5 separate regions of the Homo sapiens genome follow, and all the other regions are linked to region 4. Evidence: fine-mapped expression QTL. A gene starts in region 4. Each other region holds a variant in brackets. All regions are shown on one strand. Distances are between the middles of the regions.

The links. PIP is the estimated chance that this variant, and not a neighbour inherited with it, causes the effect.
Region 1: its variant is fine-mapped to the expression of MICALL1 in whole blood (INTERVAL, PIP above 0.99).
Region 2: its variant is fine-mapped to the expression of MICALL1 in whole blood (TOPMed, PIP above 0.99).
Region 3: its variant is fine-mapped to the expression of MICALL1 in neutrophils (BLUEPRINT, PIP 0.95).
Region 5: its variant is fine-mapped to the expression of MICALL1 in whole blood (TOPMed, PIP above 0.99).

Annotation. Positions count from the first base shown.
Region 1 is chr22:37,679,836-37,685,910 of GRCh38, reverse strand. No RefSeq gene overlaps it. Among named protein-coding and RNA genes, the nearest start is that of NOL12, 3.5 kb to the left of the region's middle. RefSeq lists enhancers at 1-549, 3,898-4,398, 4,253-4,452. The variant C/T (reference allele first, on the strand shown) is at 2,823.
Region 2 is chr22:37,875,744-37,881,818 of GRCh38, reverse strand. It overlaps EIF3L (eukaryotic translation initiation factor 3 subunit L), which reads right to left. Exons shown (of 13, transcript NM_016091.4): 10 at 5,808-5,978; 11 at 3,648-4,145. Among named protein-coding and RNA genes, the nearest start is that of MICALL1, 28 kb to the left of the region's middle. RefSeq lists a silencer at 1,582-1,741. The variant C/G (reference allele first, on the strand shown) is at 2,914.
Region 3 is chr22:36,920,834-36,926,780 of GRCh38, reverse strand. It overlaps CSF2RB (colony stimulating factor 2 receptor subunit beta), which reads right to left. Exons shown (of 14, transcript NM_000395.3): 2 at 4,498-4,745; 3 at 3,414-3,537; 4 at 604-794. The coding sequence starts at 4,573. LOC105373023 (a long non-coding RNA gene) reads left to right here and starts at 838. Exons shown (of 2, transcript XR_938230.2): 1 at 838-1,031. RefSeq lists enhancers at 78-1,277, 3,923-4,493, 4,913-5,292. The variant A/G (reference allele first, on the strand shown) is at 1,950.
Region 4 is chr22:37,902,904-37,908,978 of GRCh38, reverse strand. MICALL1 (MICAL like 1) reads right to left here and starts at 2,682. Exons shown (of 16, transcript NM_033386.4): 1 at 2,411-2,682. The coding sequence starts at 2,556. RefSeq lists enhancers at 730-1,543, 1,544-2,359, 2,360-3,175, 3,176-3,991 and silencers at 2,130-2,239, 2,350-3,069.
Region 5 is chr22:38,062,392-38,068,466 of GRCh38, reverse strand. It overlaps PICK1 (protein interacting with PRKCA 1), which reads right to left. Exons shown (of 13, transcript NM_012407.4): 4 at 3,337-3,465; 5 at 697-763. Among named protein-coding and RNA genes, the nearest start is that of PICK1, 8.0 kb to the right of the region's middle. The variant T/C (reference allele first, on the strand shown) is at 2,898.

The DNA.
Region 1 (6,075 bases), 220 kb after region 4:
TACAGGTGTGCGCCACCATACTCCCTAATTTTTGCATTTTTAGTAGAGACAAGTTTTCACCATGTTGACCAGACTGCTTGAACTCCTGACCGCAAGTGGTCCTCCCATCTCGGCCTCCCAAAGTGCCGGGATTACAGGCGTGAGCCACCGTGCTGGCCCCTACTTTAGATGCTGATGTCAACTCGTTGGTAGTCTCCAAGAGGGAGCCAAACTGCCTGGATTTGTATACTGGCATCACACCTACAGCTGTGTGGTCCCAGACCAATGGTCTTCGCGGTGCCTCACCCTATTTGTAAAATAAGGGAAAGTATAGTAGCTTCGTAGGGTTGTTGTAGACACTGGTTCTGGAACTTTGGCATACATCAGAATCCCCTAGAGGGCTAAAAACCTGGATCGCTGGGCCCCACCCCGGAGTTTCTGATCCGATAGAGGTTTCTGAGTGGATTTCCGTTTCTAGCAGGTTCTCAGGTGATGCTAATGCTGCTGGTCCGTGGACTAAACCTTGACAGCTGTGATTGTGAGGAAGTTAATTATGTAAAGTTTGTCTAACATAAGGCACGCATACATGTGTTTTCTGCACAAGCCATCTTCCCTCTTTGTGCCTCACTTTGCCCAAAGGTGGAATGAGTGTATAATAACATCCTTGACTGAGAATGAGGGCATGGTTGTGAAAGATTGCAGTGAAACAACGCCTGAAGGGGATTTTTAGTCACTTGGATTGTATGCCAGAATCCTTCATCCGCTTTTTTTTTTTTTTTTTCTGAGACAGAGTTTCGCTCTTGTCACCCAGGCTGGAGTGCAGTGTTGTGATCTCGGCTCACTGCAGTCTCCGCCTCCCAGGTTCAAGCAATTCTCCTGCCTCAGCCTCCTGAGTAGCTAGGATTACTGGCACCTGCCAGCACGCCCAGCTGATCTTTGTACCCTGACTCTGAGTTTTGGAAGGAGGCAGGCAGTAAGTGCAGCACTCCAGAATGCTGAATTCATTCCATACAGCTCCTCTGCTTGGGAAATCTATGTGGGATCCTGAGAGGAAGTTACCTTTTTTTTTTTGAGACGGAGTTTCACTCTTGTTGCCCAGGCTGGAGTGCAATGGCACGATCTCGGCTCACTGCAACCTCCGCCTCCCAGGTTCAAGCGATTCTCCTTCCTTAGCCTCCCTAGTAGCTGGGATTATAGGCATGTGCCACCATGCCCGGCTAATTTTGTATTTTTAGTAGAGATGGGGTTTCTCCGTGTTGGTCAGGCTGGTCTCAAACTCCTGACCTCAGGTGATCCACCCACCTCGGCCTCCCAAAGTGCTGGGATTACAGGCGTGAGCCACCGCGCCCAGCTGGAAGTTACCCTTAAACTACAGGCCTGGCCTTTCAGTTCTGTGGCCCAGAGCAATGCAGGGGGCTCCCTTAGGGTGCTGGACTGCACCTCTGACCAGCTGCTTCTGCCCCTTAGTGGCAGTGCCTTAAAGCCACCCTTGGCACCTTCCTGGGTAGAGGCATCACCCTGGCTGAAGGTGCCCAGAGAGTCACCTTCTGCAGCTGGTCTGTCTCCTCCCAGTCCCAGGCTTCGACCTGCTTGGTTTGCCAGGGCTCCACTCCCACCCAGAGTGGTTGGAGATGAAAAGTGAAGGCTCAAGCCGGGCGCGGTGACTCACACCTGTAATCCCAGCACTTTGGAAGGCTGAGGCGGGAGGATCACGAGGTCAAGAGATCGAGACCATCCTGGCCAACATGGTGAAACCCCATGTCTACTAAAAATACAAAAATTAGCTGGGCATGGTGGCACACGCCTGTAGTCCCAGCTACTTGGGAGGCTGAGGCAGAAGAATCACTTGAACCCGGGAGGGTTGCAGTGAGCCGAGATTGCGCTGCTGCACCCCAGCCTGGCGACAGACAGTAGAGCAACATAGTAAGACCCTGTCTCTACAAAAAATTAAAAATTAGCCAGGCGTGGTGACATACTCCTATAGTCCAGCGACTTGGGAGGCTGAGGTGGGAGGATCACTCAAGCTCAGAAGTTTGAGGCTGCACTGCAGCTGTGATCATGCCACTGCATTCCACCCTGGGTGACAGAGTGAGACCCCATCTCTGAAAAAAAAAAAGAAAAAAAAAAAAAACAGGCCAGGCGCAGTGGCTCATGCCTGTAATCCTAGCATTTTGGGAGGCCAAGGTGGGTGGATCAATTGAGGTTCGGAGTTCCAGACCAGCCTGACCAACATGATGAAACCCCATCTCTATTAAAAATATGACAATTAGCCGGGCGTGGTGGTGCATGCCTGTAATCCCAGCTACTCGAGAGGCTGAGCTACTCGAGTAATCACTTGAACCCAGGAGACAGAGGTTGCAGTGAGCCGAGATCCCGCCACTTCACTCTAGCCTGGTCAAAAGAGCAAAACTCTGTCTCAAAACAAAAAACAAAAACAATAAGAAAAGAAGTGATGATAAACTTAATGAGGAAAAAGAGTAACAAGAGCAGCTGACATTTATTTAGCTCTTTACTCTCTTTAGATTATTGATTTTATTATTTATTTATTTATTTATTTATAGAGATGAGGGTCTCACTATGTTGCCCAAGCTGGTCTCAAACTCCTGGGCTCAAGCGATCCTCCCCATTCAGCTTCAGGAGTAGCTGGAACCACAGGTGCCCACCACTGTGCCTGGCTTATGATGATCTCTTTTGAGGTACAATCCACATTTTACTGAGGAGGAAACTGAGGCTCAGAGAGGTGCAGTCACTTGTCTGAGGTCACACAGGCAAAAACAGGTGCTGAGGGTGGGGCGCAGGTGGCCTAAGGACAGAGATTGACTTAACTTATCTGGACCTAGTTT[C/T]CTAGGCCCTTGGGACACACCAAGCCTTAAAAGGGGTGAAGGGAACCAACACTCACCGAGCCCCTATTGCGTGCCAGGCACCATGCATTTCTATACATCACCTCAGCTAATCTTTTTTTTTTTTTTTTTTTTTTGAGACGGAGTCTTGCTGTGTCGCCCAGGCTGGAATGCAGTGGCATGATCTCGGTTCACTGCAACCTCCTCTTCCCGGGATCAAGTGATTTTCCTGCCTCAGCCTCCCCAGTAGCTGGGACTACAGGCATGCACCACCATGCCCGGCTAATTTTTGTATTTTTAGTAAAGACGGGGTTTCACTTGTTGGCCAGGCTGGTCTCAAACTCCTGACCTCAAATGAATCTCCTGCCTCAGCCTCCCAAAGTGCTGGGATTACGGGTGTGACCCACCACACCCAGCCAATACTAGTGCAGTCTTTTTTTTTTTTTGAGATGGAGTCTCGCTCTGTCACCCAGGCTGGAGTGCAATGGCGCAATATCGGCTCACTGCAACCTCTGCCTTCCGGGCTCAGGCGATTCTCCTGCCTTAGCCTCTTGAGTAGCTGGGATTACAGGCACGCGCCACTGCGCCCGGCTAATTTTTTTTTTTTTTTTTTTTTTGAGACGGAGTCTCGCTCTGTCGCCCAGGCTGGAGTGCAGTGGCGGGATCTCGGCTCACTGCAAGCTCCGCCTCCCGGGTTCACGCCATTCTCCTGCCTCAGCCTACCAAGTAGCTGGGATTACAGGCATGCACCACCATGCCCGGCTAATTTTTTATATTTTTAGTAGAGACGGGGTTTCTCCATGTTGGTCAGGCTGGTCTCGAACTCCCGACCTCAGGTGATCCACCCGCCTCGGCCTCCCAAAGTGCTGGGATTTACAGACGTGAGCCACCATGCCCGGCCTAATTTTTGTATTTTTAGTAGAGACGGGGTTTCGCCATGTTGCCCGGGCTGGTCTCGAACTCCTGACCTTAGGTCATCCACCCACCTCGGCCTCCCAAAGTGCTGGGATTACAGGCGTGGGCCAGCGTGCCTGGCCAACTAGTGCAGTCTTAACAAAGTTTGCCAGATGAGGAAACTGAGGTTCAGAGACGTTGAATAACTGGTCCAAGGGCACACAGCCACAGAGCTGGGGTTTAAACACAGGTCTGTCTGACGCTGAGCCGGGCTTCCTTCCTCCACACCCAGTGGCCTCTCTTACCTGCCCCAGGACTTTCCTCTGCCCGGTTGTGGCCCCAGTCCTAGTGTCCTGTGAGTGTCAGCCAGTGTAGGGGAGAATCAATGTGGGTGAACTGAGGACAAGGCAGGGCAGCCTGGGGGACGTGTTCTCCAATGTCCAGCAGAGGGCACTCCATCTGCAGCCAGGCTTCTGAAGCTGTTTCTGGGTGGCCACCTGGGAGCCCCAGGAGAGCCTGGAGATTGGGTGTGGCTCATGGGAGTTCTCAGCATGTGTGTTCCATCCTCTTTGACCTCATAGAGAGATACATGACCCCCGCTTCCACCCAGGTCCCAGGGCACCCACTGAGATGGAAATCATCTACCCAAAATGGGTCTCATTTTATGGATGAGGAAACTGAGGCTGGGTGTATAAGAGACCTACTCACAGCTGGTGCCAGTTGCCCTAGAAAGTGAGATTTGCCAAGACCCCCCCACCCACGCACCATGCCTCAGGAGACTGTGCCTTGGGGTTATGGGGGAGCCTAATGATGTTCTCATTCTAACCTTCTGAACTTTGGCTCAGTTCCTGCAGCTGGTTCCCAGAGAGGTAGGGGCCCTGGGAAGATCTGACTGCAGCAGCAAGCAGGAAGGAAAAGGTGCAGGGAAGTAGTCAGTCTGCAGGGCACCCTAGCCGTCCACTCAGGCCCCAGCAGTTGTGATGGGTGGGTTTGATGGGGTTGGGTTAAGCATTACCCTCCAAGGTAACAGCCTGGGCTGGTCTTGGAGGAGACACTGTCTTTGGAAACCAGGAGAGAACAGGCTCATGGAGACCTCATCTCAGGTTGAGTGAGTCACCCCTACTCTGTACCCCAAGGAGGAGGCTGCGGGAGTCTGGAGGCTGGGCCTCATGTTGGCTGGCTTTTACCTCTTGGTTCTCTGCAGAGGCTGACGTAGCCCCCAACCCCAGCTCCTCCTACCACAGAAACGGGCTGGCAATGGGGTGCCAGGGTCATCACCCAAACCCACTGTTGGGGTGGGGGCATCTGCCCAGGAATGAGAGCCGGCAGCTTCCAGACTAGTCCTTTGGTTGCCCATACAGTCTAGCAAAGTGGGGTGCATGGCCTGAGCCCACAAAGCCGGGATCCCTGAGGAGCCCCGCAGGCTCAGCTGGACCTGGTACAGATCCGGGAGTCATTTCATCAATCAGAGCCCATTTCTTCCCCTTCAATTGGAGTAATAGCACCTCAAAAGTGGTGCAGGGATCTGGGTACGGTGACACACACCTGTGGTCCCAGCTACTCAGAAGGCTGAGGCAGGAGTATTGCCTGAGCCCAGGACTTTGAGTCTGCAGTATGCCATGATCATGCCTGTGAACAACCACTGCACTCCAGCCTGGGCAACATAGGAAGACCCCCATCTCTAAAAAAATAAAAATAAAAAAAAAAATAATCCGTGCACGAGGTATGGGAAACCACTATCCACTAAGCATTTACCATATGCCAGGTATTGAACTTGGCTTCTTTCATGCAACACCTCATTTAATCTCCACTTGATCTCAGCCAGAAGGCCAAGAAGTGACTGGTCTTTGGAACAACTCTTTGATAGGCTGTTTGTGTTATCCTCCTTGTTATAAAGGAATAAGCTGAGGTTCAGAGAGGTCAGTTAACATGCACAAGGCCACATAGCTGGCAGCCCGTTGTTGTCTGACTCCAAATCTCTTTCTAGCTCATGAAGGCAAATGAGAGGGGTCTCGTATTCTTCCCTCCACCTCCCTGTCTTCTGCCCCGTCACTACACACGAATTGGTCTGTCCTTGCCTCTTTCCCCCTTGATGTCATTTATGCAACATCCTTTGAGCATCTGCTGTGTGCTAGGGCCCACTAGGCTAAAAACAGTTTCAGGGCAGGGACTGACTTTTATTCAGTGGTCACTGACCCTCCTACTATGTGCCAAACTCTGTGTGCTTTGTCTGGGGGACCCAGCGGAAGACGTCATTGGAACTGAGGAGGTACCCGTGGACAAAGCGAATGGAAGTGAAGGAAGGGGGCAGGCCTGGAGGTGGGGGACCCCTCTCACACACACAAACACATGCACACACATA
Region 2 (6,075 bases), 27 kb after region 4:
GACAAGATAGTAACAGAACATTTTGGGAAAAAAGAAACCATTCTAAGAAAAGCACAGAAGACCCCCTCTGCCCTATGGACATTTGCTGATCTTAGAAAACCTGGGCTGACGGCCGTGTGTGGTGGCTCATGTCTGTAACCCCAGCACTTTGGGAGGCCGAGGCGGGCAGATCACCTGAGGGCGGGAGTTCGAGACCAGCCTGACCAAGACGGAGAAACCCTGTCTCTACTAAAAATACAAAATTAGCTGGGCATGGTGGCGCATCCCTGTACATCCCAGCTACTCGGGAGGCTGAGGCAGGAAAATCGCCTGAACCCGGGAGGCAGAGGTTCCGGTGAGCCAAGATTGTGCCATTGCACTCCAGCCTGTGCAACAAGAGCAAGACTCAGTCTAAAAAAAAAGAAAACAATTCTTTTAAAAACCTCATCAGCTCATCAGCGCCTGTAGTCCCAGCTAATCAGGAGGCTGAGACAGAAGGATTGCTTGAACCCAGGAGGCGGAGGTGGCAGTGAGCCAAGATCACATCACTGCACTACAGCCTGAGTGATACAATGAGACTCTGTCTCTAAATAAATAAATAAAAATGAAAATCTCATCAGACATTAAAATGTCCAGCTTGAACTTAAAAGTGCCAGTGAAAACTAACACTGTTCTTCAACCCACCTCCCCTCCTGAGAGGAAGCTACTGCTATGTTGCTTGTGTATCCTTCTGGAAAGAACTTGAGGCATACATAGGCATATATAAATGTATTACTAGCCACTCTGTAAAAACCTTACTTGTATTTTTTGTAATATACAAACCATCCAAACGTTAATCAATGGGAGAATGGATAAACTGCAGTACAATAACAACAGCAGATGCTGGACTATCACAGAACAATAAACATGAAGGAATCACTGCTACACACAATGGACGGTGACTCACTCAATTATAACGTTGAGCAAAAGAAGCCAGACTTAAAGAGTACATACTGTGTAATTCCATTATATAAAGTTCACAAACAGGCAGCACTAATCCAAGATGTTAGACATCAGGACAGGACAGGCGCAGTGGCTCACACCAGTAATCCCAGCATTTTGGGAGGCCAAGGTAGGAGGATCACTTGAAACTAGCCTGGGCAACAAAGTGAGACCCTGTTTCTATAAAGTAAAAACTTAAAATCGGCTGGGAACAGTGGCACATATCAGAGTTCGAGACCAGGCTGGGCAACATGGCCAAACCCCATCTCTACTAAAAATACCAAAAATTAGCCAGTCGTGGTGACGTGCGCCTGTAATCTCAGCTACTTGGGAGGATGAGGTAGGACAATCACCTGAACCCAGGAAGTTGAGGCTGCAGTGAGCTGAGATCACACCACTGCACTCCAGCCTGGGCAACCAGAGTGAGACCTTGTCTCAAAAAAGAGAGCCGGATGCAGTGGCTCACGCCTGTAATCTCAGCACTTTGGTAGGCCGAGGTGGGTGGATCACGAGGTCAGGAGATTGAGACCATCCTGGCTAACACAGTGAAACCCCGTCTCTACTAAAAAATACAAAAAATTAGCCAGGTGTGGTGGCGGGTGTCTGTAGTCCCAGCTACTCGGGAGGCTGAGGCAGGAGAATGGCGTGAACCTGGGAGGTGAAGCTTACAGTGAGCTGAGATCGCGCCACTGCACTCCAGCCTAGGCGACAGAGCGAGACATCTCAAAATAAAATAAAATAAAATAAAAATAAAATAATACCGGGCGCGATGGCTCACGCCTGTAATCCTAGCACTCTGGGAGGCCGAGGCGGGCGGATCACAAGGTCAGGAGTTGGAGACCAGTCTGGTCAACATAGTGAAACCCTGTCTCTACTAAAAATACACAAAATATTAGCTGGGTGTGGTGGTGTGAGCCTGTAATCCCAGCTACTCAGGAGGCTGAGGCAAGAGAATCGCATGAACCCGGGAGGCAGAGGTTGCAGTGAGCCAAGATCGTGCCACTGCACTCCAGCCTGGACGACAGAATGACACTCCATCTCAAAAAAAAAAAAAAAGCTTTGTGCAGTGGCAGTATGGCCAATGAGGGTTATGTGAGGTGTGATTATTGCTAACTAAAAATAAAAAAATAAAGAAGGCAGCAGGACAATGGCTTCCCACTTGTAAAGTACTCCAACAGTATACAAAGCACCATCCCCCTTTCTCCAATCTCATCTTCACAGCCTCCTTTCTCAGGCTACTCGGGCATACTACAACTGTCCCTTAAACTTATTGGCCTCACTCCTCTTCGGGGCCTTTGCTCTAACTGTTCCTCTGCCTGGAAGGCTCTTCCTCCAGATATCTGGTGAGCTATTTTTTTTTTTTTTGAGACGGAGTGTCGCTCTGTTGCCAGGCTACAGTGCAGTGCAGCGATCTCAGCTCACTGCAACCTCCGCCTCCTGGGTTCAAGTGATTCTCCTGCCTCAGCCTCCCGGGTAGCTGGGACTACAGGTATGCGCCACCATGCCCAGCTAATTTATTTTTAGTAGAGATGGGGTTTCACCATGTTGGCTAGGATGGTCTTGATCTCTTGACCCCATGATCTGTCCATCTCGGCCTCCCAAAGTGCTGGGATTACAGGCATGAGCCACCGTGTCCAGCCTTTGGTGAGCTATTAAGAACTCTCCACCAGATGGATCGCTTCAGGTCAGGAGTTTGAGACTAGCCTGGCCAACATGGCAAAACCCTGTCTCTACTAAAAATACAAAAATTAGCCAGGTGTGGTGGCGGCCTCTTATAATTCCAGCTACTCAGGATGCTGAGGCAGGAGAATTGCTTGAACCTGGGAGGCGGAGGTTGCAGGGAGCCGAGATTGCACCACTGCACTCTAGCCTGGGCGACAGACCAAGACTGTCAAAAAAAAAAAAAAAAAAACCAAAACACTACTCCCTCACCTCCTTCAAGTCTTAGCTTAG[C/G]TTAAACTTCACTTTCTCAACAAAGCCTGTCTGAACACCGTATTTAACATTGCAACCTGTGCTTCCCACCACCTCTGCCTTCCTTTACTCTGCAGTGCTTGGCAACTTCTTACTACATAGTTTGTTTAATTATAACATCTATTGTTTAATTATAACATCTATTGTTGGTAATCCCAGCACTTTGGGAGGCCAAGGCTGGCTGATCACCTGAGGTTGGGAGTTTGACACCAGACTGACCAACATGGAGAAACCCCATTTCTACGAAAAATACAAAATTAGCTGGGCATGGTAACACATGCCGGTAATCCCAGCTACTCAGGAGGCTGAGGCAGGAGAATGGCTTGAACCTGGGAGGCGGAGGTTGCGGTGAGCCGAGATCGTGCCATCACATTCTAGCCTGGGCAACGAGAGCGAAATTCCATCTCAAAAAAAAAACCAAAACAAAACCATCTATTGTTTATCTCTTGTGTTTTTTTTTTTTTTTTTTTAATAGAGAAAAGGTCTCACTACGTTGCCCAGGCTGGTCTTGAACTCCTGGGCTAGAGTGATCCTCCCACCCCAGCCTCCCCTAAAGTACTAGTATTACTGGCATGAGCCACCACACCTGGCACCTTGTGGCAGCACCACAAGGCCAGGAATCTTTTTGTTCCCCGATATACTTCATGTGCCCACAATAGTGAATGAAAGATACTGAACACTTAATACAAGACCCCAAGCCCAGGGGACAGGCATACCTTATCAATGTAGAAGTCAACCTCTGAGGCTGACTGAAATTCACCATCCAGGGCTGAGATACCGCTGGTCCACACGAGGTTCTTCATCTTGTGTTTGAAGACAAGAAGCTGGATCCGGAACTCCTGCTCTGTGAGGTCCAGGAAGCCAGCCAGCTTGGCCACAGGCATGGTGGTGTAGAGCTTCAGGAAGCTGCGGATGGTTGAAAGCTGGGCCTGCTGCTGTACTTCATCAGAAAACACCTTCAGCTGCTGCAGGAAGGGCTCTTTGTGGTAGTTGGGGTGCACATTATCATAGTTGGGCACTACAGGCGACAGGAACTTGGGGCAGGAGTAACTGAAAAGTTCTTCATAGACTTGTGGGTCACCTTTCTGCATGCGCAACATCTTGTCCCCATATTTCTCCCGCAGCTGGAGGTGAATGCTCTCATCAATACGCATGGGGTACATCGTGAGGGCAATGGCCAGCAGCGCATGCATCTGCTCATTCTGCTTGTTAATCTGGGGATGGGGTGGAGAGTGGTACTGGGTCAAATGAGACGGACTTCCTGAGGTCCCCACTGCCAACTGGCCTCACCATTCTCTGCACAGATCTTTGACTTACCCAGTTGTTTCATACCAGCCATTGAACTTCCCCAACATCTCTTCCAATCCTCCCTCTAGATCTACCTAACTTCCATCCTAGCTCCAGATCCTCCTTAGCCATCTTCTGGATTCCTTACTGGCACCTCTGTCTTAGTCTCTCCAGTTTGTCCCACACATCACTAGCAGGTCAATCCTTTTACACAGTTAGGATCGAGTTACCCAAAACCTTTGATGCAACCTTGATGACGACAGAAATATAGACTAAATAGTAATGTGCCGTGCAACAGCGTTTCAGTCAACAACGGGCCATGGGCCACATATAGGATGGTGATCCTGCAAGATTATAATCCTGTATTTTTACTGTATCTTAGATACACAAATACCTTTGTGTTACAACTGCCTATGGTATTCAGTACAGTAATATGTTCTAGACGTTTGTAGCCAAGGAGCCATAGGCTATACCATGTAGCCCGGGTATGTAGTAGGTTATCCCATCTAGGTTTGTGTAAGTACATTCTATGATGTTCACACAACAAAATCACCAAATGATGCATTTCTCAGAATGTATCTGCAGCATCAAATGACACAGGACTATACTTTACCTGGGTTAATGAAGGTTCTCAGAATCTAATAACCCAATTCCTACTACCTACTTGCCCTCCAGCCAGAACAGTTTATTGTGCGGCTGCATCACCACACTTTCAAGTCTCAACCACTTTGCTCATGATATTCTCTGCCTAGGAAGCTCCTCCCAATTCTTGAACCCATCCTCCTTCCCACCAATATCCACACCTTATATCAAAACATTTAGAACCCAGTGAACACTCAGCATACTGATGCTGAATAAATAAATGTAGGCACTGCTGGAGGATATAACTGAAACAAAAGATATTATCATCAAGTCCTTATCATCAAGATGTTAATGATCTGAGGTAACAGGCATCACAACAGAAACTCCTAAGAGTATGCTAGCCATTAAAAGTTCATTTTGGCTGGGCGTGGTGGCTCACGCCTGTAATCCCAGCACTTTGGGAGGCTGAGGTGGATGGATCGCCTGAGGTCAGGAGTTCGAGACCAGCCTGGCCAAATAGTGAAACCCCATCTCTACTAAAAATACAAAAATTAGCTGGACATGGTGGCACGCGTCTGTAGTCCCAGCTACTCAGGAGGCTAAGGCTGGAGAATCACTTGAACCCAGGAAGCGGAGGTTGCAGTGAGCTGAGATTGCACCACTGTACTCCAGCCTGGGTGACAGAGACTTCGTCTCAAAAAAAAAAAAAAAAAAAAAAAAAAATTAGCCGGTGTTGTTGTGTGCGCCTTTAAGCCCAGCTATTCGGAAGACTAAGGTAGGATGATCGCCTGATCCCAGGAGGTTGAGGCTGACGTGAGCTGTGACTGCGTCACTGCACTCCAGCTGGGTGATCTATTAGTAGGCACAATCACAGAGCGCTCTACAGTCTTGAACTCCTGGCTTAAAAGTGCAATATTTTGGATGGTGTTTACCAAGAATGGTTGGCATAGGTGCCAAGGATCCCCCTGATTAGAAAGGCCACTGGTGGCAGGCAGAGTCCCCCTTACCATCTCATACTTGTACGTGGTCCTCTGGAACATGCTCTTGGTCCTCTGGATGTAGAGGAGGATGTTGGCGAAGACCCGGATGGCATCCTGGTAACGACGCATCATCAAATATGCAAACCCAACATAATAGTATGTGGTGACCTGGCACTCTGGCACACGGGAATACATACTCTGTAGAAGGAGGTAGAACAAACATTCATGAGTCCCAATTCATCCTAGATAGAACCAGAGGTAGAAACACCAAGAGTTTTCCCTGCAGAGGCCCTCA
Region 3 (5,947 bases), 980 kb after region 4:
CTAATATAGAGGCAAATAAAACCTAACTACATAAAATAATCATCTACCCCACCCTAGACCACAGATGGCTTCATGGACCACTGTGGGATTTCGGCCCACACCGGGGCCCCTCCTCCAGGGCAGCGAGGAGACAAGCTCCCTGTCTACCATGCAGGAAGCCCCCGGGAAGGCTGACCCCATCTCTGTCATTACTGCTCAGCTGTGGGACTTCAGAGGAGGCATCTGACCTCCTGGGCCTCAAGGGCCACATCCAGGAAATGGGTTGCTTCAGAGATGAGATGAAACAACTAAGCGGACAGAGTTTTCTAACTTGGTAGGTTTCTAAGTGAGTGGTGAGAACGGTTTTCTTCAAGACAAGCCTGCAGTGCTGGAAGCCCATGGCTTAGTGGGAGGTGGTAGCAGCCAGGGGCACAGGAGAAGCCTTTGTCAGGGGCCCCTCTGCTCTGAAGTCTCCATGTAACCAGACCATACCCTCATCCCTCAAGAAACCCTCACCCAACCCCAAGCCACAGCCTTCTGCCTTGAAGACTCCCTGGACCACCCCTGGTGCCCCCGCTGTCCACACAGGAAACCAAGCCCCGGGCAGGGCCCCCAGCCCCTCACCATGCTGGGTCAGAGTGACGGTGAGCCGGGTGCCCAGAGGCCTGTCTGGTTGGAATGAGAAGTAGTCAACGTCAGTGACGACAAAACTCTGGCAGGGAATGACACATCTCCTGGGCACGCAGCGGGGATGGGGGCAGGCTGACCAGGGCATGTCATCACTGAGGTCACAGGACACTGGCTCCAGGAGGTCCCTGTTGGGAGAGGACACGGCTTAGCCCAGGGTGTATGGGTATCACTGACTCACGAAAGGTTCCTCGAGTGCTCACCACATGCCTGGCTCTGTTCAGAATCAGGGGCCAGCAGTGATAAAACACACAAAAATCCTGCCCACGGAGCTGCCATCCTGGGAGAAGGGGACCCGCATGGAACAAAGTGTGTAGCGTGTGCAGTGGAGAGAACTTCATGTGGAAAAATAAAGCAAGAAGCAGGTGAGGAGGGAGGAAGGGCTGGGCCAGGGAGGCAATTTGAAATATGGGACAAGCAGGCTTCTCTAAGGAGGTGACCTGGGGGCAGAATGTTAAAGGCATTGAGGGAGGGACTGTGCAAATTGTGAGGATTTCAGGAAATGGGAACAGCACGTGCAAAGGCCCTGGGACAGGCAGAGTTTGGTGTGCTGCGTGGCTTGGCCTAAAACCAGTGCGCAGGGAGTAGAGCGTGTGATAGGGAGGTCTAGGAGACCCATCCATCTACATGATGGGATTGGATCTCACTGCGAGTGAGTGGGAAACAGTCATGAGCAGAGGTGTTGTAGATTTTGATAAATGCTTTGAAAGGATTCCTGAGGGTCCTCGGTTGCGAATAGACTGAGGTGGGAATGTGGCAATGTTGGAAGCAGGGAGCCCAGTTACGAGGCTTCTGGAATATTCAGGTGACAGGAAGTGGCGTGCAACAGGGTGGTCAGGCTGGCGTGGGTGAGATTCATGTTCTGCTTGAGATAAGGTTGGCAGCATTTGCTGGTGGAGGGATGTAGCAGTCAGGAAGGAATGGTGACAAAAGAGACTTAAAAACAAAACAAAATCCTCCCTGTTGTTTAGTTTGAGCCACTAGGAGCTCCCATTTAGAAAGGGAGATGGGGAAGACAGAGGCAGCAGCGCAGCTCGGGTGAGAGCGGGACTTTGGTTGAGGACGTTTGGAGTCGGAGACACCTGTTGTCTAAGTGACAGGTGGAGAGGCCAGTACGCCTGGAGGGCTGGAGCTTAGGGGAATTGTGGGCTTGAGGTCACCTTTGGGAGATGCCCCAGGGGCCTGAGGGGGTCTCTGCAGAGTGGATACAGCAGAGAGGAGGTCCATGGACTGGGCCTGGGTGTCTTGCCATCAGGAGGCAGCAGACAAGGAGAAAGAGGAGG[A/G]TGGGCAGGGCCCCGGGGGCACTGGGTGAGCTGTGGGCAGAGTCAGGTGCAAGAGAAACTGCAGGGAGGCCGCGGTGGTCCTCCTTGTCAGGGGCTGCCCCTGGTCAAGTAGGAAGAAGGCGGAGGCCCAACCATGAGATCCTGCTCCCTGGGACATTTGCTGACTTGGACCAGAGCAGTTTGGGTGGCCTGGTGGGGGCAGCATCCTAGGGGAGTGGGCCCAGGAGGAAATGGCTGGAAAGACACTGGACGTGGTGAATGTGGACAACTCTTTAGGGAATGCTGCTGTCAAAGGAAGCAGAGAAAGAGGGGCCGCAGGGTTGCCAGGTCAGGAGATGCCCAGGCGCTGCACTCCTGTGGGCATCTGAGAGGGGGTTGGGGCAGGTTTGCAAGGCAATTGGGAAAGATCCTGGGAGAGGGCATGGTGGGTGGCACAGGGCAGAGTGGGGACTTGGGGGCCGTGATGTTCCTGAGCAACAGGACCAGACAGCATCGTGTCTCAGGCCTCAGACAGGAGCCCTGGTCCAGGCCCAGGCCCCGGCGGTGGGCAAAGGGGGTGGGGAGTGTGAGTGTGGGGTGGGTGGGGAGCTTCTCCCTGGTCCCCTGTTGTGTCAGAGCAGCAGGAAGCAGGTCACAGGGAGGGGCAGGATGGTCTTTGAGGAGAATGGAGAAGGTCCGACAGAGACGCCCTGGAGAACTGAAGGCGGTGGAGGGGTGGGGGTGGCAGAGCCGGCCCCGCCCCCCAACGCTGGGGTGACCTCCAATGGGTTGTCATCTGCCTCTCTGGTTCCAGCTATTTAATTACTTAATTTATGGCTGATTTAGACCCTGGCCAACACCCCAGAGCGATTCTGGTCCCCTTCCCTTGTGGCACGTGCCCAGGAGAGCTTGGGTGGGAGAGGTGGCAGCCCACATACGGAGGGGGGGCCTGGGAGAGCGCGGAGCCCCCTCCCAGACACGTCCACACAGCTTGCTCTGCCACTGTCTACCCCGTGGCCAGGGCTGGCACCTCACCTCCAGGGCCTCAGTTTTCCCATCTGTGAACTCCCAGGCTAGCGCCATCTCTCCTTGGTCTACTCTGGACAGGCAGGCAGTGGCACAGCTGGGGCTTCGTGGCCTGGCCCTGCCCACCTCACAGTGAGGAGGAACTAAGATAGGTCATGTGGGGCAATTGTGTTAAATTGTGATGAAACAAGAGAAGATTTTCACCATTGCCACCACCACCATTGTCACCAACATCAGTGTAGGAGGCACTCCGCAGAAACCCCAGGTCAGACGGCAGCACCCGGCCTCGCAGGTGCCTGGCGGAGCAGGAGCTCTTGCAGGGCCTCCCTCCTCCTCTGTCCTCTGTCCACTCCCACCCCGAGGCTGACCTGACAGGTCCCTCTCTACACTGTCGCCCCATGCCAGGCACAGGGGACGTCGTAGCCCCTGCCCGTGGCCCCTGCCCCCAGCATCACTCACTCATTCACCCGGCGAATGAGGGTCACGTTGACGAGCCGCTGGGCATCCTGGGTGTCTGCCCACCTGCAGGTGATGTGGCTGGTGTAGTCGTTGTAGCAGCGCAGGGTCTGCAGCGGGATGGTTTCTGACAAGAGGGGTAGAAGGGGGTCACCTCTCTTTCCTGCAGGGACCCTTGTCACCATCACCCCCAGCTGCTTTGGGATGTCCCGCTCTGGGGAGGGGTCTCCCAGGTCCCTGCAGAGGCACCAGGTGGCCAGGCACATGTACATGTGTTCATGTCTGCCGGGGTGGGCTCCTGGTTGCGGACCCTCCTCTCCTGGCAGAAGCAAGACATTCTGTTGGTTCTCAGCATGGTTTCTGGGCCTCCGCAGTGTGCTGTTCCTGGGCACGGTCCCCTCCCCCCACCCCAGGACAGGGACATGCATCAAGCACAGGCCTGGCCCCTGGACCGACTGTGCAGCCTGGGAGGGGGCACACACTCAGCCCTGGGATGCAGCGTGGCAGAGTTCTACCCTGCAACCTCCCACCTCCTCTCTAGTCCCCGTCCTCAGGAGCCTGGTATTTGTTAAGGGGACTGTGGTCCCAGCATTATCACAGAAGCCAGGTCTCTGGGAGCCCTTGGGAGGGGCCATTTCACCTCAAGAGCCCAGGAGCATCCCAGTGCGGGCTTCAGGCACAAGGAGGGTGCTAGCGGCTGAAGCAGGGAGAGAACCCCAGCCAAGGCCCTGCAGGAGCAAAGTCCCGGAGGTGGGAACCACTGAGGCACAGAGAGTGTCTGCTGGGGAAGGAGGGGCAGGGAAACGGCCAGAGCAGCCATCCTGGAGCCTAGGGGCCGGGAGTGCCGCCCTGAGAAATGTGGGCAAGGAAGCCAGACACGCTCAGCTGGACTTTCCAAGACAGGATGAGCAGGAATGTGCAGGAGGAGGGAAGCGGGGGAGGCCCAGGGAAGGCCAGGGGGAGAGACAGAGGGAGGGGAGCAGGAGGAGGGCTGGCGGGCAGGATCCTGAGGATACGCTGCGGCCCTCCCCCAGGGTGCAGCAGTGAGGACAGGGACAGGGAAGTGGGTGGGAGCCACGGGACTCACCTTCTGCCCCTGCCAGGCTGCGCTCCCAGCACAGGGCCAGCAGGGCCATGGAGAGCAGCCCCTGGGCCAGCACCATCTCCCTGGTCAGCTCTGGACAGGCAGGCACCAGCACTGGTGGGTGCTGGCCATGGGCATGACAGGGTCCTTAGTGTCCTGAAGTCCTGTGTTCCTGCCCAGCTGGGAGCCAGGCCAGACCCATTTCACAGGCTCTTGGGACCTCTCCCTCCTGGCCTCTGCCTCCTCCAGGCCTGCAGAAGGAGATGTCAGCAGTGAGCTGCCCCTCCCCTTCCACGTGTCCCAGGGACACCGCCCGTGTTGTGGGGACAACCCAGAGAAGTGGCCCTCATGCATGACCTCTCAGTCTCCTGCGGCATGAAGGCAATGGACATGCGCTGTGTGGCCTGAGGGACTGGGTCCCCACTTGGATCACTGACACCTACCACTGCACAATGCGCTAGACAGCAGAGCAGCTGAGACAGGGGCCTAGGATTTGACTCCTACTAAGCTCCCCGTGGGCTGCTGGTCCACGGCTGTTGGATGCCACAGTGTCATCCCCTGGACATGAACACATGTACACACACATGTCCTCACTTCCACAGGGCCTGTGCTCTCCCCACCCCTGCTCCTTTTACCGTCATCCCCCCACCCTCTGCTTGCCAGTTCCCTTTTCTCCTCGGAGGCCGGGGGTTTCCTCCCTTTCATTTCACTGGTCTGGGAAGTACCCAAGAGAGCAGAACAGACAAGTGTGGCTCCTTTTCTTCTGTTAGATTGTTGGAAGCTTCACTCAAGATGCCCATGCAAACACACACACACACACAAGCACACGGACACACGCAGGCACACACACGCACAACACACAGACACACACAGATACATACATATATACACGTACACACAAAACATGCACACACATACCCACATGTATACACACAAATGCACACACAGACACACACACAGAGGCAGACACAGACACACACAGATACATACAATATACACACATATACACACACAAACATGCACACACACATACAAACACACACACAGAGACACAGACACACATACACACATGAACAACACAGATACATACATGTATATACACATATATACACATATACACACAAACATGCACACACATTCACACATACACAGAAATTCACACACAGAGGCACACATACACAGACACACATACACATACATGCACAACACACACACACATACACACTCGCATATACCACCTACACACAGACATACACACACACATACAGATACATGCACAGACACACATACACACACACAGAATCTATCAATGGACATGCTGGCTGGAAACAAACTCTACTTGACCCCAGACTGAGAAGGAATCAGGAATCAATGTGAAGCGATGAAATATTAAATTTAAAAAAATGCTAAAATCATTGATTAACAACATAAAAATGCCTATCTAAAACCCCAT
Region 4 (6,075 bases):
CCAACTGCATCTCCCAACTCGCTACCTTGTGCTCCCCACTCAGCTACACAGCCTCCAGCTTTGCACACACCTCCCGCCCCTTGCCTTTGCTCAGATGGGGTCCCATGCCAGAACGTCCACCCAGCAGCCCTCACCTGGCTCCTGCCATCTCCTTGAAGACTATATTCTCCCTAGGAGGTCTCCCACCCCCAGCCCTCTGATAGGGTACATGGAATTGCCATCATCGTTTATACACGTTTCCCCTACAGGTGTGGGAGAGCGTGTAGGGTTGCCTGTTTTGTCGATTGGTACTTCCATTACCAGGTACAGTGTCCAGCACAGAGCAATATGACTCTACAAATACTGGTTGAATAAATGAAGAAATCAAACATTGTTATTGGGCCAGGCATGGTGGCTCATGCCTGTAATCCCAGCATTTTGGGAGGCTGAGGTAGGCAGATTACTTGAGCTCAAGAGTTCAAGACCAGCCTGGGCAACATGGTGAAAACCCATCTCTACAAATACAAACAAATTAGACAGGCGTGGTGGCGTGTGCCTGTGGTCCCAGCTACTAGGGAGGTTGAGGTGGGAGGATTGCTTGAGCCCGGGAGGTGGGGGCTGCAGTGAGCCATGACTGTGCCACTGCACTCCAGCCTGGGTGACAGAGTGAGACCCCATCTCAAAAAAATAAAAAACATTAAAAAAAAAAAAAGTAACATTAGTTACTCACAGTAACTAATGTTAAATGAATGCTTGTTATCTCATGCAATCCTCACATTTCTGTGAGCTGTGTCACATTATCAATCCCACCTCACAGATGAGGACACTGATGCCTGGAGAGAGCCCATGAGGACCCAAGGCCATGCGCCTAAGACATGGAGAAGCTAAACACAAACCAGGCGGCCTTTATTTACTTTGATGCCACCAGGCTCAGGCCCACCAAATGGCTTCACTTCACACCCAAGTCCCCTCCCACACTGGGTTTGTCCCTGCTTCCTGCCTCACTCCTGCCCCTCAAACAAAACAGAAGACCCCTTGGGCCCTCCCTTCCAATGCCCAGGTCTAACCCTGGTGCCCTTTTCCTCCATCCTTCTACCCCCTGCTCCTGGGCAACCAGGCATCAACCTTGTGCTTCCATTAGTATGGGTGTCACATGCCCCACAGCGGGCAGGGGCCCACCTACATGACCACCTCATCTTGTTCCCTTCTGTATCCACAGCCCCAAAACCCTCTCCTCCAGGGCCCAAGCCACCACCCACAGACACGGTACTGCAGGGTACATACAGGTAAACCAGGTGCACCTGCATCATGGAATCCTGAGGCAATCCCTTAGAAGCCTTCCCACATGCTGCCCTCGGACAGTGCAAATCTGGAGGTGGAACAGGCACAGAAAGCCTCCATCTGCCAGGCTGGGGGAGCCCTGGCAAGAGGGCTGCATGCGAAAGGGGTAGGGACCAGAACTCTCCTCCCTGATTCACAGGTGAGACCTGAAGTGCAAGGAATGGCACCAGATAAACTCACCCAGTGTTTTAGGAATGAAGGGACGAAAGGAGGAGAGGTTCCAGGGCTCAAGGCAGAGAGAGCAAAGACAGAGGCTCCAAGTCAACTGTTCCGGGGAGTCTGAATGCATTTTCCCATGAGAACCTCATTGGGCAGCTCTGGGCAGGAAGGGGCCATTTCACAACCTGCAGCACCCGGTTGGTGTCTATCAATCGGATCCTAGGAGTCTTCCCAACATTGCCGGCCTGTGACTCCTCTTGCGCGCCCCACCTGCGTGCCCCACTGAGGAGGGCTGCAGGGCCATCGAGCACACACCCGGGAGGCAGGGCTGCGTCCTAAGTTGGGGGGCGTGGGGAAAGCACAGGGTCTGTACATCCATTCATCCAACACCTGTTAGCCGAGGTCTCCTCTGTGCCGGGAACTGTGCTACTGTCCGGAGACAAGCTCCTATTTGGGGGTCAGAGAAGTGGGGGTTCACCTGCACACCCGGAGCAAGGGGCCACCCCGAGTGGGAAGCCTCGGGGGAGAGGGGAGGCCCGGCGAGCCCGTGGAGAAGAGTTTAGGGTAGGAGAGGCCCAGGGCCCCCAAAGAGGGCTCAACACCCCTTCAAAGAGGTCAAGGGCTTAGGGGTTCAGCGATCCTCGGCGGAAATCAGCGCTTTGTGGGCGGGGCCAGTGTCCCCGCGGAGGGACCAGCCTCGGGGGAGAGTTCGGGATCCCACGGGCGGGGTCAGGGCGGCCGGGCGGGGGAGGGGCGCCCTGGGCCGGGGTCTCAGGGACCCGCCCGGCGTCCGGGGCCGTCGGGGGGGTCGGCGTCTCCGTGTCCGGGGGCGGCGCCTGTCACCGCCCGGGCTTCGTGTTACTGAGGGGGGGCGGCGGTCGCGGCCCCAGCCCGCCCCGCGCCGCCCGCTCGCCCGGGGCCCCGCACTCACAGCAGGTCGGGCCGGTGCCGGTGCAGGATGGCGCAGAAGGCCAGGCCGTCCCGGAAGGAGCTGCTCAGGTCGCGGATCTCCACGCCGCGGTAGCCCTCGCACTGGCGGCGGCACCAGGCCAGCAGCGCGCCCCGCGGCCCAGCCATGACCCCGCGGCCCGCCCGGCTCCGGCTCTGGCTTCGGGGCCCCGGCTTGGCCGGGACGGCGGCCGCCGCGCGGGCCCGGTTTCCGGCTGCGGCTGCGGCTCCGAGCTCGGGCGCCGACCGGCAGGCGAGGGGAGGGGCGGAGGCGGGGCCGCGGTGTCCTCGCTCGGGCGCCCCGCGGCCCTGCCCTAACCTGCCCGAGCAGCGCCGCCGCGTGGCCCGGCCCGGCCGGCCGCCGCCTACTCCGCGCTGCCCGCTCGCCTCATTGTGGGCCGGTCGTGGGAGCGGGCGTCCCGCCGCCTCCGTCCGCGCCGGAGGCGCGCCCCACCCAGCAGCAGCTCCGCCTCCAGTGCGGAGCCCACCCCTACCAAGACGGGCCGGCGCCCCATCGCCCGCCCCTCGACGGCGCCGGGCTCCCGCTGCTCCACTGGGTGCCCGCGAAGCCCCCGCACCCGCCGCAAGCGGACCACTCCCCACGATGACTTCACCGCCGCGGCCGCCGCCGCGCCACCCACCGGGAGCCCTCCACCCTTTGGAGGCGGGACACCTCGTGCTCCCATCCGGCCTCCTTCCCGCTCCTAATGACCGCAAATCCCCCCTTCCACCCCTAGCTTGAAACTTTGGGGAGGCAGTTCCCCTGCAGACCTCAGAGCACCCCCCCCCGGATAGCCACCAGCTTCCCTCATCCCGGCTCCCCACCCTAAAGCACCGCTGAGCTGGAAGTTGTCATGTCCACCATCCCCTCCCCCATAGCTTGGCAGGGAGACCCATGCGCCCCTCCGCCACCTTTGGTCCAGGTGTCCCCTAGGTGATTCACTGAGCTCCCCTCAGCCCCTGTGTAAGCTCAGGGATCTCGTCCCTCCCCACTGCGGCCTGCCGGGTCCCCTCAGCCATGGTTAGTGTGGTGGTGGTTTGAGTTCCTATGGGAAGGACCTAGGCCAAGGAGGCCCCTGCCTGGGAGGCATACAGGCAGTTTGTATCTGGCCCTGGAACCTCCCCAAGGCTCATTCTCTATCTTTGCCGTCTTCAAAACCCCCGCCAGCCAACCGACCCTTCCAGCCAGCCAACCCTTCCAGCCAGCCGACCCTTCCGCAGAGGCCCCTCCTGACTCTCCCACAGATGAATCAGCCTCCATCTGCTGCAGAGGTGGTGATGTCACCCTGACCCATGCAATAGTTAGCTGGAGTGGGTATTTCGCTCCCTCCCAAGGGAAGGAACAGGGTCTTAGTCATCTTCATCACCCCTGAGCACTCAGGGGAGTGGAAAGATCAGGCATTTTGGAGCCCTATTAACCCAATCTCCAATCCTGGCTTTCCCCACTCCCTTAGTCATGTGATCTTGTGCCTCCCTGGACCTCAGTTTCCACGACTTAAAAATGGAGATAATACCTGCTTTACAAGGTGGCTGAGAGGATTAAGATGTAAAGTGCCTTACCCTTTAGTTATCACTCATAAATTCTATTGACTCCTGGTACTTGGTAAACATGATGAAATGGACTGAAATATTTTGTACCCAGATTGTCATCTGGGCCATTCTGGGTAAATTATCAAGGAGAGAGGCCGACTTAGGGAATTCTACCTCTTCAAAGTCCACTGAGTCCCAGTCCAGAATACTGGCCCAGGGCCTGGAGAACCCAGCTTGCCAATCTGGGCTGGCCTAACACTCCTGCAACTGGAAGGCCGCCATCTTGGCTCAGTATATGGACTCTCAGGCCACCTAGGAAGAGCATGGCCAGAGTGCCTGGCTAGCCCTCTGGACTTCTCACCAGCCCTGAGCTGCCAACTCCTGCCCTGTCCCCTGTGGGATAACAGTGGCAGGAAAGCAGGATTCCGGATGCTTTTTATGAAATCAGGGACTTGGGTTCAGGATCCTGACACCAGCATCCACCTAGGCCTTCAAAGACCACCCAGGACTCTCATTAAAACCTAAGGGGGGCGGGGTTGGGCACCATGGCTCATACCTGTAATCCCAGCATTTTGGGAGGCCGAGGCAGGTGGATCACCTGAGGTCAAGAGCTTGAGAACAGCCTGGCCAACATAGTGAAACCCCGTCTGTACTAAAAATACAAAAAATTGGGCCAGGCGCGGTGGCTCACTGTAATCCCAGCACTTTGGGAGGCCAAGGTGGGCGGATCATGAGGTCAGGAGTTCAAGACCAGCCTGGCTAAGATGGTGAAAGCCCGTGTCTACTAAAAATAAAAAAATTAGCCAGGCGTGGTGGCACGTGCCTATAGTCCCAGCTACTCGAGAGGCTGAGGCAGGACAATCGCTTGAACCTGGGAGGCGGAGGTTGCAGTGAGCCAAGATCACGCCACTGTACTCCAACCTGGGGGACACAGCGAGACTCCATCTCAAAGATGGTGGGTTTTTTTGGCTCACGCCTGTAATCCCAGCACTTTGGGAGGCCAAGGCAGGCAGATCACGAGGTCAGGAGATCGAGACCAGCCTGGCTAACACGGTGAAACCTCATCTCTACTAAAAATACAAAAAATTAGCTGGGCGTGGTGGCACACACCTGTAATCCCAGCAGGAGAATGGCTTGAACCCGGGAGGTGGAGGACGCAGTGAGCTGAGATCGCACCACTGCACTCCAGCCTGGGCAACAGAGTGAGATTCCATTTAAAAAACAAAAAACCAAAAACAAACAAAAGAAACCAGGAGGGATTATAGCCCTGTCCTCACTAGCCTAAAGGGCTCCCTTTAGGTCCCTGAAGACAGCTCCATATCTGATCCTGTTGCCATACTAATAGCTTACACAGCACAGCCTGGTCACCCCCATTAGCCATTTGTGGGCTTTATAAACTCATTATCTGAGTCAGCTCACAATGTTTCGAAGTAAGGACCTGTACGACCACAGTGTGTGACCGCAGGCCAGACAACTCACCCTCATGAACCCCAATTTCTTACCCTATAAAATGAGGATGATAATACTTGCTTTGCCTGAATCCCAGGGTTGTGGGTAACAAGGTGAGATAATGGATGAGAAAATGCTGTGCAGACTGTAAATCCAGGGTTCAGGTGGAAGGTGGGTCTGTGTGTTTACAGGTGAGATCAGAAGCCACAGAGATAGGTGAGTAGGGCACTTGCCCAAAATCATGCTATAATTTCGGGATTAGAATTGAGAGACTTGGGCCCTTAATTCAGTGCTGTTTTGTTTTATTTTTAACTATCAATTAAGAAATGGGGCCAGGCACGGTGGCTCATGCCTGTAATCCCAACACTTTGGGAGCCAAGGCCAGGAGTTCAAGACTAAACCAGCCTGGGCAATATAGGGAGACCCTGTCTTTTTTTGAGACGAGTCTCTCTCGCCCAGGCTGGAGTGCAGTGGCACGATCTCGGTTCACTGCAACTTTCATCTCCCAGGTTCAAGTGATTCTCCTGCCTCAGCCTCCCTAGTAGCTGGGATTATAGGCATGGGCCACCAAGCTCAGCTAATTTTTGTATTTTTAGTAGAGACACAGTTTCGCCATGTTGGCCAGGCTGATCTCAAACTCCTGAGTTTAAGTGATGTGCCCACCTCAGC
Region 5 (6,075 bases), 160 kb before region 4:
CCTAGGGTGTATGAAGGGGATTGCTGGGCTCCAGAGCTGAGACCTAGGTGTGCGCTCACCAGGGGCTGCAGCGCCCTCTCTGGGTCTCAGGCTTTGATCCATAATGTGAAGCGGCCGGTCCAGAGGACTCGAAGCTGCTGTCCAGCTCTTGAGTCTTAAAGTTTCTACAGAACCGAGGCTCAGCCCCTCTAACAGGAGGGAACTTGTCCCAGGGCGCAGACCCTCTGCCCAATGCCTGAGGTCCAGTTCAGATCCAGAGTCCCCCTGGGAGCTGATGGCAGGAGAGGCCAGGGAGGAGTGCGCTGTGCTAGAGGGCATGAGGCGCCAGGCCAGGGTTAGGCTGCTCTCCCTTTATGAAGAGTGAGGCCCTGGGCCATGGAAGCCGAGGCGCTGGCCTGCAAAGGACAACCCTAGGGTAGCAAGTCCCCAGAGGAGATGGCAGAAGCAGGGAGGTAGGGGTGAAACGCGGGGGAGTGAGAAACCAGGGACAGAGTACAAGAACAGATGCAGGGAGAGCACCGGGAGGCCTCCCAGGCCTTTCAGATTTGCTTGGTCAGAGGTCAGAGCCCACAGCCATGTAACTCTGGATTCTCCTGTCATAAAGGGGAGGGCAGGGCTGGCTGTGGCACTTCTCCTTTGGGCCAGGGCCCATCCAGGGAGGCTGCTGGACACCCGTAACTGCTCTGACCAGCTTACCAATGTCCAGGGACATGCCCTGCTTGGGGTCCGCCTGCAGCTTGTTGTAGTGGATGGTCACCTCCCCCTGGAAGAGCAGCACACACAGACTAGTGAGCGAGGCTCCACACCCTGAGCCCCTTCCCAGCCAAGACTGTTCTGGACTGAGACTCCTGAGCCCAAGGCCGGGTGCGGTGGCTCACACCTGTAATCCCAACAATTTGGGAGGCTGAGGCAGGCAGATCACTTGAGGTCAGGAGTTTGAGACCAGCTTGGGCAACATGGCAAAACCCCATCTCTATTAAAAATACAAAAATTAGCTGGGCGTAGTGGCGCGTGCCTGTAATCCCAGCTGCTCAGGAGGCTGAGGCAAAGAATCACTTGAACCTGGGAGGCGGAGGTTGCAGTGAGCTGAGATCACACCATTGCACTCCAGCCTGGATGACAGAATGAGATTCTGTCTCAAAAAAAAAAAAAAAAAAAAGAATCCTAAGCCCCAGTAAGGGCCAGGCTGAGCGCTGTGACATGGCCCCACCTTGTGACCCTGTCTGATCCCAGGCCCCTCCCTTCCTACTCTACATCCAAGCCCTGGGGAATCAGTGGGGACAGGGCCGGCACCGGGCCCACAGCCTGGCGGTCTCTGATGTCTTGTGCTTCGGCCAGGTCAGGCTCTCCTTCTTCCCTCCCCACGCAAACCACACTCCAAGCCTTTGCCGTGTCATTTCCCTACACTGATTATTCCCTCCTCCACCCCAAAACACCCCATCCCCAGGAATCCCTCTACTCATCGAACAGCACATCTGAGCACTTGCTCTGTGCCTGGTGCTGGGGCACCAAGGGGAGGGGCAGGGGCAGCCCCAGCCCCGCAAGGCTGATGCGAATCAGGGAATTACACAAACCACTTTCTAACGACTGCTCAGGAGACAAAGGCTTCTCCCAAGAGGACTTGCCTGAGCACGGGAGGGCGCTGTGTTCACTCTCATCCTTGCAAACCAAAAGCCCTTGAACTTGGGACCACATTCATCCAAATATAAAACAGGATTTTAAAATCAAGTCCCAAAGGGAAACCAAAATGAGCAGATGCAATCAGAGTCAGAGGTGGGGTGTGAACTGCTCCCGCAGAATGAAACACAGGCGTGCTCAGGGGCCACCCCACAGGGAGCAGCTGTAGGCCAACGGCAAGCGGGCTGCAGTGGGAGTCGGGCCCGGGCTCCAGTTCAGCTGTGTGACCACAAGCAGGTCACTCCCCGCCTGTGGACACCTGTAAGATGGGAGAGTAATCCCTGCCCAGCACCCAAACAGGGGAGCTGGGCCAATGCTGCATCCCTGTCATGGCTGTGTGCAAATACAAAGAGCTCTTGTCCTCATGGGCAACCTGAGGTGCTGGTATGACCAAGCCTGAGAGGACAGGGAGGGACCTGGCGAGTGGAGATGGGGAGGAGATGCGGAGGGGGGAAGGGCTGCCAAATGGGGCACACACAACCCAACTCGGCCAGAACGAGACCCCCTGCACCTGTTCCCATGATCAGCTCCTCTGCCTAACAGGTCATACCTGAGGCAGTGATACCCAGACCACGTGGAGTGGCAGCTGTGGGGTCTCAATGAACCTTGCTGCTTCCTTTTTTTACAACAGAGCTCTGAGCCCCAGCCCCAGGCCCTGATTTGTCCTATGGCTAAAGGGGCTGGAATAGGAGAATGTGCAGGATGGGACTCTTCCTACAGCAAGGAAGGAGAGAAGCACGGACTACTCAGGAGCAGGACAGGAGGATAAAGGGGAGAGAGGATGGAGCAGCGGCTGGCCTGGGTTAAGGCAGGAAGGCGGACTATCAGGAGTGCCAGAACCCGGAGGATGGAAGTGGGGCTGAGGGAGGTAGCTGCCACCCTTGGCCAAGCTGAACTCACAGTGGGGACCCTTGCCCCCGAGACTTTCAAATCACCCCATGGCTGTGCACTGCCTGCACATCAGTTCTTTCACAGTATTGGTTTCCTGAGACTAGCTAGCAGCCACTTCGCTAGGAAATGGCAAAGGGGCTGCATGCTCGCTTCAGGAGAGGCCGGGATGCCGCCTGCCATTCCAGTCCTGGAGCGGCAGGGGTGGGGGAAAGCGGGGCAGGCAGTGTGTGACTCTGGTCTGTAGAGCAGAAGATCAGCTGGCCTGGGAGGGGGGTCTCTGGGTGTCTATGAGCCCAGGAGGCTGTGTGGGACCGAAAGTTCCTACAGGA[T/C]GGGGAAAGGGCACTCTTCTTTCCCTCCTAGCCCTCACAGGCCCAGCGTGACCCGGCTGACATTATTGGGTGTCTACTGACCCAGGGAGGATCACCTTGGACTTTTAGCTTCAGCTCTGGCACTGACTGGGGACACATGGGCTTGCCTGAGGGGTGGTTCCAAGTCTGTCAGCTCCCTGGGAGCTCATGGGGACCTTGTGGTCTTGCTGCCCACTCTCTTGCCAAGGTTCAGCACAAGTCCTGGAGCACGATTAGTATTTATTGAATGAATGAGGGATGGATGAGGGAGGCTGGAGTGTGACCCTGACCCTGCACATGACAAGGAAGGGGGCGGTGAGGGCTGATACCCCCTTCCAGGCCTGCTGGGACCTCTGGCAGCCTGGAGGTCTCAGAAACATGTGTTGCTGCCTCTGGACACCTGCTCTGCAGCAGCCCTTACCTTCACCTCCTGAATCATCTTCGCCACCTCCACCTTAGTTTTCCCTTTGATTGACCTGCCATTGACACCGGTGATCTCATCGCCAGCTGCCACTGTGCCGTCCAAGGCTGCTGGGGTGTTGTCAAATACCTGTGGGTGCATAAGGAGAGTGGTGGGGGAAGAAAGGGAGGGCTAAGATGGAACCTGGGAAGACACCTGACCACTGCCTGGCTCTGTCTTCCACTCTACCCTCTGCTCTCGTTTTTTGAGAAAGCGTCTCACCACCCGGGCTGGAGTGCAGTGGCGTGATCACAGCTCACTGTGGCACTGAACTCCTGGGCTCCAGCAATTCTCCTGCCTCAAATACATAGTCAAATGATTTCTTTTTTTTGAGTCGGCGTTTCGCTCTTGTTGCCCAGGCTGGAGTGCAATAGCGCCATCTCGCTCACCGCAACCTCCGCCTCCCGGGTTCAAGCAATTCTCCTGCCTCAGCCTCCCGAGTAGCTGGGGTTACAGGCATGCGCTACCACGCCCGGCTAATTTCGTATCTTTAGTAGAGACAGGGTTTCTCCATGTTGGTCAGGCTGGTCTCAAACTCCCGACCTCAGGTGATCCACCTGCTTTGGCCTCCCAAAGTGCTGGGATTACAGGTGTGAGCCACCGTGCCCGGCGGCATCAAATGATTTTTGACAAGGGTGTCAAGAACATTCAATGGGGAAGGACAGTCATTTCAACAATGGTATGTGAAAAATGAAGTTGACACTACTTAACACCACATACAAAAATTAACTCAAGGCCAGGCGCAGTGGCTCACACCTGTAATTCCAACACTCTGGGAGGCCAAGGCAGGCAGATCACCTGAGGTCAGGAATTCGAGAGTAACCTGGCCAACATGGCGAAACCCCATCTCTACTAAAAATACAAAAATTAGCTGGGCATGGTGGCAGGCGCCTGCAGTCCCAGCTACTCAGAAGGCTGAGGCAGGAGAATCGCTTGAACCTGGGAAGTGGAGGTTGTAGTAAGCCGAGATCATGTCACTGCACTCCAGCCTGAGCAACAGAACGAGACTCTGTCTCGAAGATAATAATAATAATAATAATTAACTCAAAATTGTTCAAAGACCTAAATGTAAAAGTTAAAACTATAAAACTCAGAAAAATGCCTAGTCCAAAACCTTCACGACATTGGAGTTTACAGTAATTTCTTGGATGTGACACCTAAGATCCAAGTAACAAAAAATAAACAAATTGAACTTCATAAAAATTTTAAAACTGGTGCATCAAAATACACCATCCAGTCTGGGCAATGTGGCAAAACCTTGTCTCTACAAAAAACACGAAAATTAGCTGGGCATGGTGGTGTACGCCTGTAGTCCCAGCTACTTGGGAGGCTGAGGTGGGAGGATCGCTTGAGCCTGGGAAACAGAGGCTGCAGTGAGCTGAGATCCCGTCACTGTACTCCAGCTTGGGCAACAGAGTGAGACACTGTCTCGAAAAAAAAAAAAAAAAAGAACAGAGAAGAGAAGAAAAGAAAGGCAACCCACAGAATGGGAGAAAATATTTGCAAATCACATTTTTGATAAGGGATTAATATCCAGAATATATGCAGAATTCCTAAAACTCTTTTTTCTTTTTTTCCTCTTAGCCGATTGTGCTTTGTAGAGAATTCTTAAAACTCAACAACAAAAACCAAACAACCTAATTCAAAAATAGACCAAGGGCTGGGCACGGTGGTGCGCACCTGTAATCCCAGCATTTTGGGAAACCGAGGTGGGAAGATCGCCTGGGCAATATGGCAAAACTCTGTCTCTACAAAAAAAATACAAAAATGAGCCAGGCATGGTGGCGCGTGCCTGTAGTCCCAGCTACTCGGGGGTCTGAGGTGGGAGGATCGCTTGAGCCCAGGAGGTTGAGGCTGCAGTGAGCCATGATCGCACCCCTGCACTCCAGCCTGGGCGACAGAGCAAGATCCTGTCTCAAAAAAAAAAAAAGTTAAGATGGTAAATTTTACCACAATAAAAAAATAGAAAAAAGCAGAACAGAGAATACAGAAAGCAGGATGTCATCATCGAGATACATGACAAGAAGGACATGGTGTTCCCGATGACGCCCTCTGAGGATCTGGCACAATAAACAAAAGCCTGTGCCTGCAGCTACCATCACGACTCCTCCCAACACCAGGGACAAAAACAAAGTCCTCAAAGTTCTCACAGATCAGAAATAAAACACATCACAAATAAAGGATCACCAATAAGAATGGCAATAGCCATGTGACAGCAAAGGACAATGTGACAAGGCCATCACACTTCCACACAGGAATTACTGTCAACCTTGACGTTCATTCTTGAATCGAATGAGCCAAAATGTCAACTGAAAGGAATATGGGAACCACAATGACCAAAAAAGACAGACCCGAGGTCTCAAAAAATTGACATCCCACGTGCCCTTTCTCAGAAAGCTACAGGAGGATATTCTCCACGGGAGATCAGGGAGTAAACCAGGAAAGGGACCCCCAAGATGGGGGAATCCAAAGAGAAGGGGCAGGGGCAGGGGGAGGGCACAAGGGGGAGAGACTACAGGGCGGAAAACAGACTGAAGAAAATGGGGCCGGGCATGGTGGCTCACGCCTGTAATCCCAGCACTTTGGGAGGTCGAGGCAGGTGGATCACTTGAAGTCAGGAGTTCGAGACCAGCCTGACCAACATGGTGAAACCCCGTCTCTACTAAAAATACAAGAATTAGCCAGGCGTGGTGGCACGTG